Regions from separate parts of the Homo sapiens genome. Here region 2 is linked to region 1. The links come from fine-mapping of genetic effects on plasma protein levels. A gene starts in region 1. The other region holds a variant in brackets. All regions are shown on one strand. Distances are from middle to middle. Region 1 holds the start of FSTL4 (follistatin like 4). Region 2 overlaps FSTL4 (follistatin like 4).

Region 1 (5,000 bases):
GAAAAACAAGCTGGCCTTTTCCAGAAGAAAAAGAGCTTTCCTAGAATCAACAAAAATTGAGGATGATCATAAAAGTCTAAGAGAGAAAAAAGCACTAGGACAACTCTAACGAGCAATTTAAATACATTACATCAAAGTGGACTATTTTCTTATGTGAACTTTGGCTCAGTCTGAAGTCTTTGGAGAGGGTGGTGCCTTTTTTTCCTAGGATGGGAGGGAAAAAGCGAACATTTAGCAGAGTATGGCAGAAATGGTCTAGTGATGCTGCAGTGCCTCCTTCTCACAACGCTAAGATGGGAAGCAGACACGTGCCCTGTAGGGCATCTGCTCGTATGTCCGGCTTGAGCTCCTGCCTGAGAGTTGCTGTGGCTCTGGAGTCTCAGAAGCTGCATCACTCACACCTCCGACCATTCCCTTCCCAGGTGGACCCCCCGCCAACCAGACCCAGAGTCTGTCCTGGGGGCCAGAGGGGCAGGCACAGAAACTGGCGCCTGGCTCCCAGGATTAAGAAGACACTATTAAAAAGCATCGCTGGTTTCCCCTAAATTTGGCAGTAGGAAAATAACTTAGGACTTTCAAGAAGAGTCCTAGTCGCTCACTGATCCGTCTTTTCCCCTCACAGATTGTGACACAGGCCCATTCCCGGTGAACATTTTGGCTGGCAGTTACTTCACCACCTATTGAAATTCTGTTTACGTTTGGCCCAGAGAACCTGGACGGATGTTTGTATCTCGGGGGCCCCATCTAGTACAATTCCTGGTGCACAGGCTTGCAACAAATTTACGAAGGTAACAGACCAAGCTGCCGGCGCTGTTTTTCACTGGAGGAAAGCTCGGCGGAAGCGACACCTAGAGGGGAGCGGCGGGCTGTGGCCGCGCCATTCATCAGTGTCGGCGGCCCGCGGCCGCGAGCGAGGGCTGCTGGACAGCGCCCCGGCACCCGCTCTCGAGCCGCGACACCGACCTCGCCGGGCCCGCCCCGCTGACCCGCGCACTCCTAGTGCACTTGCCGCGCCGCGCGGAGGCTCGCCGCGCTCTGGAAAACAAGAAACCCCACTGCCTCGGCGGCTTTCCGCTCCCGCAAGAGTTGCGGGCACAAAGTCCTCAGGTGGCAGGCCTGGGGTTGGCGCCGCTTTGTCGGCTGCAGGGAGCCCCAAAGACTAGCGTCAGCTCGTCCCCAAACTCGAGGCGACAGGCGCCGAAAGCAGAGTGCTGTGCCTGCCTCGTCCAGGTCCCTCCTGAAACTCAGAACTCGTCTTTGTTTTGCGGGCGCAAAGAGGGCGGAGATCATCCACAGTGCAAGCTCTCTTAGGACCAAGCCCCCAGCCCGAACGCTGAACGCCCCCAACACACTGCTCCCTAGACACGTTCAAGCGGGTACCCCGGGCCGCTCACTCTGGACCGCGGCCGGCTACGCACAAGCAGCGCCGCAGGCTGCCTGGAGTCGGGTCGTGCCCTGATTCCTTCCTCCCCAGCCTCACATGCGGCGGACCCCGGGGAAGCCAGGGCCAGGCGAAGCGCAGCGGGCCCTTTGGGCTGCAGCGAGGAGACGCAAGTTTCCCCGCAAAGCCGCGGGGAGGAGGTGCTGAGAATGCCTGCCCGGCGCCCCAACCCGGAGCCAAGGGCACCGGGCCCGGGCCGAGGGGCCGCGCTCGCCTGGCTCCGCCGGGGCCGCTCGGGGTCCTGAACCCAAGAACGGCGCCTGCAGGATTTCGGAGCCGGGCGCGAGCTGCGGGCTCGGCCCGAGCGCTTCTGCGTGGCGCCCCGCGTGCCAACCGGGTCACTCCGGTCCCCACCGTAGACCCCGGCCACGAGCCTCGGCGTCCCAGCCTCTCCTCGAGTCCTGGCCTTGGCCGGGGTAGCCCTGCCGAGCCCTGGCCCAGCGGTCCCTTCCCCGCGGGCAAACTTGGCTTTCCCGGCGCGGGCAGTAAGGACAAGCAAGCGCCCGCGCCGGGCCCTGCAGCAAGATGCGGGGCCGCGGGCGCCAGGACCCCAGTGGGGTGCAGCGGGACCGGCTGGTGGCGGCGCCAGCGACATGGCACCCTCCCCGCGCCCGCTGGGAGCTGCGCCCGCGTACCTGAGACGGCCGGGGCCGAGGGGAAGACCAGGTGGCCGGACTTGGGCGGGAGGGAGGGAGCACCCCGTGGCGGCGGCGGCGACCCCGCCCCGCGTCCTTCGGCTGGTTTCTCGGGCTGTCGGCGGGTCCCGGGCTCGCTGGAGGCTGTTGAGGCTCCAGCTCCCTGAGCCGCCGCTGCCCGCTGCTGTGCCACCGCCGCCGCGGCTGCCCTATTTCTGCCGCCGGGACCGGAGCCCGTGACGTCACCCTCTGGGCCCCGCCTGCCCAATCGCCGCCACCTGTGCGCGCCGCCCGCCCGCCAGCCGGTCAGACCCGCGCGGCGGCCACGGCAGGTGCGCGGAGCAGGCGGGCGCGCACGCGGGGCGCGATGACTCCGGAGCGCTGGGGCCATCTAGGGCCCGGAGGGAGGAGGGCCAGCGTAGCGCTCCTGCCTCTGGCTAGCGTGGAGCTCGGCAAGTGACAGCCCCTCTTCACCTCTGCTCTCCTCCAGGCTCCTTTCCGGGCCAGGTTCCCCAAAGCTGTGCTCTCCAGGCGCACAGGGGGTCTCTGAATCCGCGGCCATTGCTCGTGGAGTCCAGGCGGGCCGGTACACCACAGCAGGAGAGCTGTCCCTGGGGACAAAGTGGGTGAAATCCCCCGCCGTTGAGACCCAACAACCTGGGAAACAGCAAAGGTTTTCTCTTTTCTGAATCTTCCCTCTTCCAACTACAGAATCTTAAGACATTCAGGGCATACAGGGGCAATCCCAAGTGACATTTGCCTACCTGACCTAGCTGGGCCCAGAGGGTCCCTTCTCCCTTAGAACAGGATATTTCCCCATCCTGATCCCATCCCCAAGCCTGGGGCTCCCAAACTTTTCTGAATCCCTCTTTAACATCAGCAGCTTTTGAGATCAGTCTTCCTTCCCGAATGAACTGGAAACACCTTTGTAACAACTAGGGGCCCATAAATGGTCATACGTAGCCTCAGTCTGGCAGGAAACTTAGGAGGGAGCCCCTACCCAGGCCAGGCTGATGGCCAGGAGACTTTCTGAGGGCCTGCCTCCTGCTCTGGCTGCGTGGGCACCAGGGGCCTTCCTGGCTTAGGTGAACAGTGTTCTGTCCATGCCTCTGTAATCTCTCCTGGCCGGGGGGAGGTGACAGAGGGGATTTTTCTGAGGATGAAGTTAGTTAAATATAAGGAAAAGGGGAAGAATAATGGAAGGCTGACCTGAAGAAAGAGATATTACGTTTGTTTTTTCCTTCCACAGATTTTCCTGCCGCTGAACCCCTCCAATGCAGCAGGCACTGTGCTATTAATAGTTGCTAGAGATACAGCAGTGAATGGGCCAGCGCGGTCTTGGCATCACACAGTTTTGGTCTGGGGTCCAGCTCTCCCTCTATCACTGCCAAGCTATGTAATGCAGAGCCAATCGTATCTCTACTGTAGGTATCAGTTTCCCCACTTGTAAAATGAGGGGTTGGACAAAACCTGGTTGACTTCCCATGTGGATACCATGATTTTTACTCAGAAGGATAAAGGCTACTACATCCTCAGTGACCCTGGGCCCTAGCCAGTGTGATCCTCTCTCAGATTTGACTATGAATCTTTGCCAAGGCCACCATGACTGAACTTCTGGGGCTGGCTAGGGGCCAGATTCTCCATGGCAGGACTGGGGAAGGGATGGCACTTTTCATCTTGGGAAACAGAAAAGAGAAAATGAGTATAAAAGGAAGCAGGGAAGTTTGGAAATGTGCTGTGCCTCCCTCTGAAATGTAATTCTAAGTCTGTGGTCAGGAACGTACACCATGGCTTAGAGGCTGGATTCGGCTCTCCTCTAAGACATGAGGTATTTGGAAAAGCAGATTTCTATTCTCAGCTCTGATCACAAAGTCCCTGAGTCAACCTAGTGGCCTTATTACATAATCAAAGCAGGACTTTGTGTATTTTTTGTTTTTTAGTAACTCAAGGTCATATGTAAATCAGGGTCTATAGGTTGACCAAGATCAGAAATAGCTCTGTTTAATGCAGTGAACAGGCACTGAACTTCTACACGCTTCCCAAAGAAGGAGAAGAAGGTAGTTGCTGCAAACCAGATGTATGGAATATTCCTTAGAGAGAATGCTAACATCTGAAGTGAGCTGTTTAACTACTGTGCATAAAATAAGAGTGAAATTAAAAGTCACCTCGGAATGAGAAAGGTGAAGTGTGAATGACAAAATAAAACAAGGCTCCAGGGAAGCAGCATCAGATGCCAGTAACCTTGACACCTCTTTGAATTGCTCTGTGCTTTTACCTCTCAGTGTAATTTTTTGTTTAATAGTACACCCCAAATTGGAAAATAGGCTAGATTTCACACTGAGAATTTCAAAATTTGCCTGAAACCCTGTTTCAGAACTTGCAAGCATACTGATTCTCAATAGCCAACTAGGATTCTTAGGGGAAATAATGGTTAAGTTTTGAACTTCATGTAATTCAATAAGCTTGGAATAGGGGAGCTAAAAGGAAACATAAATTCCAGTTACTGCCCCCCAGCCCCACTCTGTTTTTGGTGAGTGGTTCAGCCAGAGACACACATAAAAACATTATTAATATACTTTTACAAGATCAAAAAGTTTAAGCAACCCAAATATTTTTTTACGTTGCTGGTTTAAAATCTTTTTTCTATTTCTAATCCTTACCAAAAACACAACAATATAATGAAAAACTACTGCCAAATGATGTGTGTCTCTTAGGACATTTCAGATTACACCTGCATATCAGGATACTCAGAGATGACACATAGCCATGGGAATCAGGAGGAAGCAAGGCACTTTCTCCAGATCCAACCAAAAGTATCTGCATCACTAACTGTGGGTCAGCTTACCCTTGGGAGTCCCCACTAGGCTGGTCAAACAGTGCCTAGAAATACCCATTAGAAGCCAGACTGGGAAGTCATGTGAGAA
Region 2 (5,511 bases), 290 kb before region 1:
TAGTGGCTTTGTGCCCCTACAAAACTTGATGGGTTTTTCCTTTTTCTGGGCCTGGATAAGGATAAGTTTTGGGGAAGAGGAGGAATAGTTTTGCCTGAGTCTAGCTCCTCACTCCCTGAAAGAGGCTGAAATTTTGTCCTGGCAAATAGACCAGAAGTGGGGGTACAGAATGAAAGTGGAGGTGGGGCCAGCTGCTGGGGTAAATGGAGATGGATGTGTGCCTGTGTGGAGGGTCTGCAGGAGCCAGCATTTCTGCAGCCCCCAGGACTTCCTGGAGTGGGGGGCATTTATACCCAGATACTGAAAAATTGATGTACACAGCAGGTGGATATGGTGTCAGGAAGAGGCTGTACTCAGAAACACCGGTGGACAATCAGGCTCCGAAGAACATGCTGCAGCAGGGCCACCTGAAGGTGAGGACAGGCTGGGTCAAAAGGGCAGGATGCCCCATCCTTGCAGATCCCCCCAACCTTCCTCCTGGACCTTGGTGGGGCGTAAACCACTTCTGAGCTGCCTGCTGCCCTGGGCAAGATTCCTTTCTGGGAGCCTCTTATTTCGTCTCAGGACCCCAGTGGCCAGGCTGGCCTAAGCATGGAGAGCGCCCTGGGAGTTCTTGGGGTCACCAGCTGGCAAACCCATTTCTCAAGTCTGTAGAGCTACACGGACTGGCGTCCCCCTGTGAGCAGGGGTCTGCAGCTGGACAACACCTCCAACACTGGCAGGTGGGGGAAACCATCCAGGTGGGTCTTGCTGGGATGGAAGTGGGGTGCTGCAGCATCCTCCCCAGGCTCGGCCCCACCTCACATCCTCACAGCTGCCTGTGAGCGCAGACTTCTGGCTGCTTCACCCTGGCAACTGCCCAACAGACACCTTCTGGTCAGGAAGGTATGTGCAGGTCTAGAAGTCAATCATCTGGGGGAAAGGGGTGGGCCCTCCAGGTCTCCAGCATCAGCTCCCTGAGCCCACGGTCCCACCCCCTGCTAGGGCCCACACTGTCCAGGCCACTCCCATCCTTTTACCAGTATTTATTTACATACTGTGTGCCCGATGCTGGGCAGCCTCCAGTCCTGGGCACTGTGGGTGCCTGTGGTGGGAGGCCAAGGGAGGGATGTTCAGGATGAGACCTGTAGGAGGAGGAGTTGTGGGAGGAAGCAGAGGGAAGAGCAGGCCAGGAGCAGGACTGCGCGTGCAGGAGCCATGGTGGGGCACGTCTGGAGACTGGTGAAAGCTGGTGTGGCTGGGCTAGAGGGGCTGAGTCAGGTGGAGAGTGAAACAAGACAGGCAGGAGAGGGCAGTGGGACAACCCAGGCAGAGCCTCCAAGGCCTTGGGGAAGTGTGTGGCACCGTACATCATGCTGTTCAAAACTTCCTTCGTCATTTCTTCCCTTTACTGAGGGCACTCCATGCCTGGGCCAAGCTTGCCACTGGGGTCCTGAGATGAACCAAGGGATTCCAGGAACAGAATCTTAAATCCTTCTTTACCCCAGGAGCAACTGTGCTTTAATGAGTTGCAAGAGAGAACTTTGCCCAAACTTAAATCATGAAGTCATTTGTCCGAAATTACTGAGCTCCTCTGGTGCCCGACAGCACTGGGGAAGGGCCATGGACCCTGGAGGAAAGGCAGCCTGATGCTCAGAGCTCTGCTTCTGTGCAGATGATCACTCGAGATCCCAAAGTCCAAACTCGCTTTTTGGGAAGGCTTTTGAGCCTTCATCTCCAAGGGCTGCCCTCTTGGTGGCTCCCTGCCTTCACTCCCTGCCTTTGTCATCCGAATTCCACAGGGCTTGAGGTGGAGTGGGGGAGGGAAAACTTCCTTCCTTGCCTTCTTCCAGCCCCCAGAGGCAGATGCCCCAAAGCTGCAGCCTCCAGCTCAGTCTCCCTGGATAGATTTCCTCCTTCACAGCTGGCCTTGGCTTCCAGGATAGATATTTTCCTAGCAAGGTGTGTCAAAGTCATAGGTTACCAAATTCCAGTTTTATTTTTACATTCCTGCCCCCTGCTGGTTTCACTGTGGGGTCAGATAGGAGTGACTTAGCTGTGTGAAGCACTGGGCATTTTGGACACCACCGGACATGTCTTCAGCTAAAGGCTCCCTCCCCTCTTCCAGCTTCAAACATTTGTCTAATTCTAGAAGAAATACATGCCCATCAGAGAACCACTTGGAAAGTGCAAATAAAAATAAAGAAAAAGAAAATAAATCATCCCGAAATCCACCTCCCAGATGCAGGTGCTGTCAACACACTGCTGGCCAGATGTGAAGCTGGGCCCTCTCCATGAGTGACACTGAGCCCATTATTGAAATGAGCTCTTTCACGTAGTCCAGCCCTCGTCTGCTGTGCGGGCTCCGAGACCTGTTTTCTGATCTTCCTCCTATTCTTCTCAAATTCCAATCATTGGCTGGGCGTGGTGGCTCACGCCTGTAATCCCAGCACTTTGGGAGGCCGAGGCGGGCGGATCACGAGGTCAGGAGATTGAGACCATCCTGGCTAACACGGTGAAACCCCGTCTCTACCAAAAATACAAAAAATTAGCCAGGCATGGTGGCGGGCGCCTGTGGTCCCAGCTACTCGGGAGGCTGAGGCAGGAGAATGGTATGAACCCGGGAGGCACAGCTTGCAGTGAGCCGAGATCACGCCACTGCACTCCAGCCTGGGTGACAGAGCGAGACTCCGTCTCAAAAAAAAAAAAAAAAAAAAATTCCAATCATTTTGGGCAAGAAAGTGTCAACACCCAAGGTTCATGTCTTTCTTATCTTCACCCCAGTCAGCCCTGCCCACCTGCCCAGCAATTCCACACAGGTGACTACAAGAGAGGTGGGGGGTATGGGGGGACCAAGGGGACTTCAGCAGCACTGATCACTGGGCATGCTCCTGCCCAGGGGCCTGGCATTGACTATCCCCCTGGCTGGAGTGCTATTCACCCAAATCTCCACCTGGTGTATTCATCTTGGCCTCTGCTTAAACATCACCTGATGTAAGCTGGCACCCCTTACCTTCATCACTCTCCGTGCCCTGACACTGTGTGTGTTGGGCCTGGCTCCCAGGTAGGGAGGGAATCAGATCTCTCCGGACAGGGGCAGGGTCCAGTCTTAGCCTTAGCCTTGATCCACAGGATACTTTACTCCTTCGGAGGGAAGGTCCCTGGGGTGTGTGGCAGAGGC[T/C]TGGGGACCACCCCACTCCTCCCTGGTGCCCCTGTGGGTGATGGTCAAGATGATGTTGAGAATGATAGTGGCAGGCCGGGCGCGGTGGCTCACGCCTATAATCCTAGCACTTTGGGAGGCCGAGGCAGGTGGATTACCTGAGGTCAGGAGTTCGAGAGAATGGTTCGAGAGAATGCCATAAGGAGCCCTGAGCTGGGGCCCGGATCCCATTGCCAGGGCCTCTCTAACTCAGCCTGGGATGGGGAGACTCAGAATACAGTTGAACTTCAGCATTGATTAATCCGGAGGCATGACTCTTCCAGAGAAAAGGTGGGATGCTTGCATATAACCTTGACGTCCATGCCTTGAATGAGGCTCAGCAGGGGCTGCCAGGTTGGGACCCGCAGGGGACCTGCTTCATGAGTGGGCAGGACCGCCGTGATTTGGACTGCACAAGTTTCTGCCCACATGTTTGGAAAGTCATTTCAGTGTTTTCTCTGAGTCTTGCTGGTTTCCAGGTAAAGAGAACTTTGTGTTGTTCTAAATAAGGGGATTTTGTCTTTGCCTTTGTGGTAACCTTGGCTAAGTCAAGCCTTACAGTGAGGTTTGGAGAATTTCAGGGAAGCCCCCTCCATAGCTGGAAATTCCCTATGCTCTGAACACAGCTGCGCTTTCTCATGCTGCCCCACCCCCTTCCTGTCTTCAGGCCCAATCCACCTCGTCTGTAGGAAGCTTGTCCACTTACACACACACACCCACACACACACACACCCCCACACCCACCCACACCCACCCACACCCACACACCCACACACACACACACCCCCACACACACCCACACCCACACACCCACACACACCCACACGGGACTGCCTTCTCCCTCAGCTTTCCTTTCTGCCTGCTATGAAATCCTTTCTGAGTGAGGCTTGCCCCAGCCTTAGTTTGGGCTCCCCCAAAGCAGTCCCTGAGATGAGGATCTAGGGGCAAGCAGCATATTTGAAGATGATCCCAAGAAGTGCTGGAAGGAACAGGAAGTAGACTGGGAAGGGAGAAAAGCCAACAAAGGGTTCACTCATGAGTGGGTTGCCGCCGTGGGCAATGGGGGTTCAATCCCATGGGGTCCTCAGAGGGACTGTGTAGAACACACCGCAGAATTGCTTCACTGAGGTGGGAGGGAGCCAGGATATTTTTCTACTGACTTCCATCCCTATTAGCTGAGGTTGCTCTTGGAGGAATTCACCACCTCCAGCTAGCAGTTCTGGACCTCCCAAATGAGGACTGAGTCCACGCCTGAGACCGGAAAATGTCCTCAGGCTGAAGCTGCAGGTGCCTGGGATTGGATGCTCTTGGCAAGTGTTATGGGGAATCGTCCATCCAAGCTGCACATCACCTCTGGGGTTGACTGAGGGAAGCTGGATGGGCGGCTTTCAGCATCTGCTATGTCCCCTTAATGGGATTACATGTTCTGAGCAGGCAGGAGTTGAAGTGGACAGCTCCCCATGCAGCATTACAGTATGAAATGCTTGTTGAATGAGAGGACCAGAGTCCTGTGGCTCCAGGGCATTTTCATGAAGCTGGAGCCAGGGTGATGGGCTCACCCTATAACAACCTTGTCTAAGGTCTTCAGGGGGACACAGACTTCATCTTAGGCTGCCGTGTCTACCTGATATTAACACTGCTAATGACAGTCACCACAAGGTCAGACAGAACACTGGGTGGAGGATCAGGAGACCACCTGACTTCAGCTGTGAGACCTTAGGAAAGGCATTCACTCCCCTGCCCTTCCTACTCCTATTCCCTATCTTCACATGGGGATAATAATAGCTTCTTACTGCCTTCCAGGGTCATAGCATACAAGGAAATGTGAGGACTTAGCAAGTGGTTGGCGAGGCCTGGGGTCTTCTCTTGGTGAGATGGGCTCAAAGCCCCAAGGGAGGGGTATGGCTCATTTGTCTTTGTCCCCTTTACTGTGGGGCCTGGGACAGGTTGGCAACTAAATCAGTGCTCATGGCTAAACAGAAGACAGAAGATGTCCTGATCCTCTCCCTCCCTCCTGACCGCCAGTGCACATGCCCCATCTGGGGCTTCTTGGGGAGAGAGGCTGCATGTCCTGGTAAGCCTGACACTGACAGCGTCATTGGCAGGCTCTGTGAAGGGCTCAGCCACCTTCCTGCCAGCCTGGGTGCCCTCCATGCCACAGGGCTGGCCTGGCCAGCCCCTGGCCCTGGCCTCAGGCTCCTTGCCAGCACATGCGTGGGGCTCCTCCTGCTCCCAGACCAGGCCTGCTTTGGCAGATAAAATATTGATCAGCTTGCCGAGGAGCCCAGAGTGTGATCCTATTTTCATGTCAGAACTTGGTAATGAACTACATT

What was found. A credible set is the group of variants that fine-mapping cannot tell apart. PIP is the chance, under the fine-mapping model, that this variant and not a neighbour inherited with it causes the effect. Sun 2018 read protein levels with aptamers (SomaScan).
Region 2: its variant is the best candidate, but not a certain one, in a credible set for the plasma level of the FSTL4 protein (Sun 2018, PIP 0.59).

The regions. Positions count from the first base shown.
Region 1 is chr5:133,610,249-133,615,248 of GRCh38, forward strand. It overlaps FSTL4 (follistatin like 4), which reads right to left and starts at 2,293. Exons shown (of 16, transcript NM_015082.2): 1 at 2,077-2,293. RefSeq lists a silencer at 975-1,024.
Region 2 is chr5:133,318,331-133,323,841 of GRCh38, forward strand. All of the region lies in intron 4 of FSTL4 (follistatin like 4), which reads right to left. Among named protein-coding and RNA genes, the nearest start is that of FSTL4-AS1, 65 kb to the left of the region's middle. RefSeq lists enhancers at 675-1,192, 1,193-1,709. The variant T/C (reference allele first, on the strand shown) is at 3,161.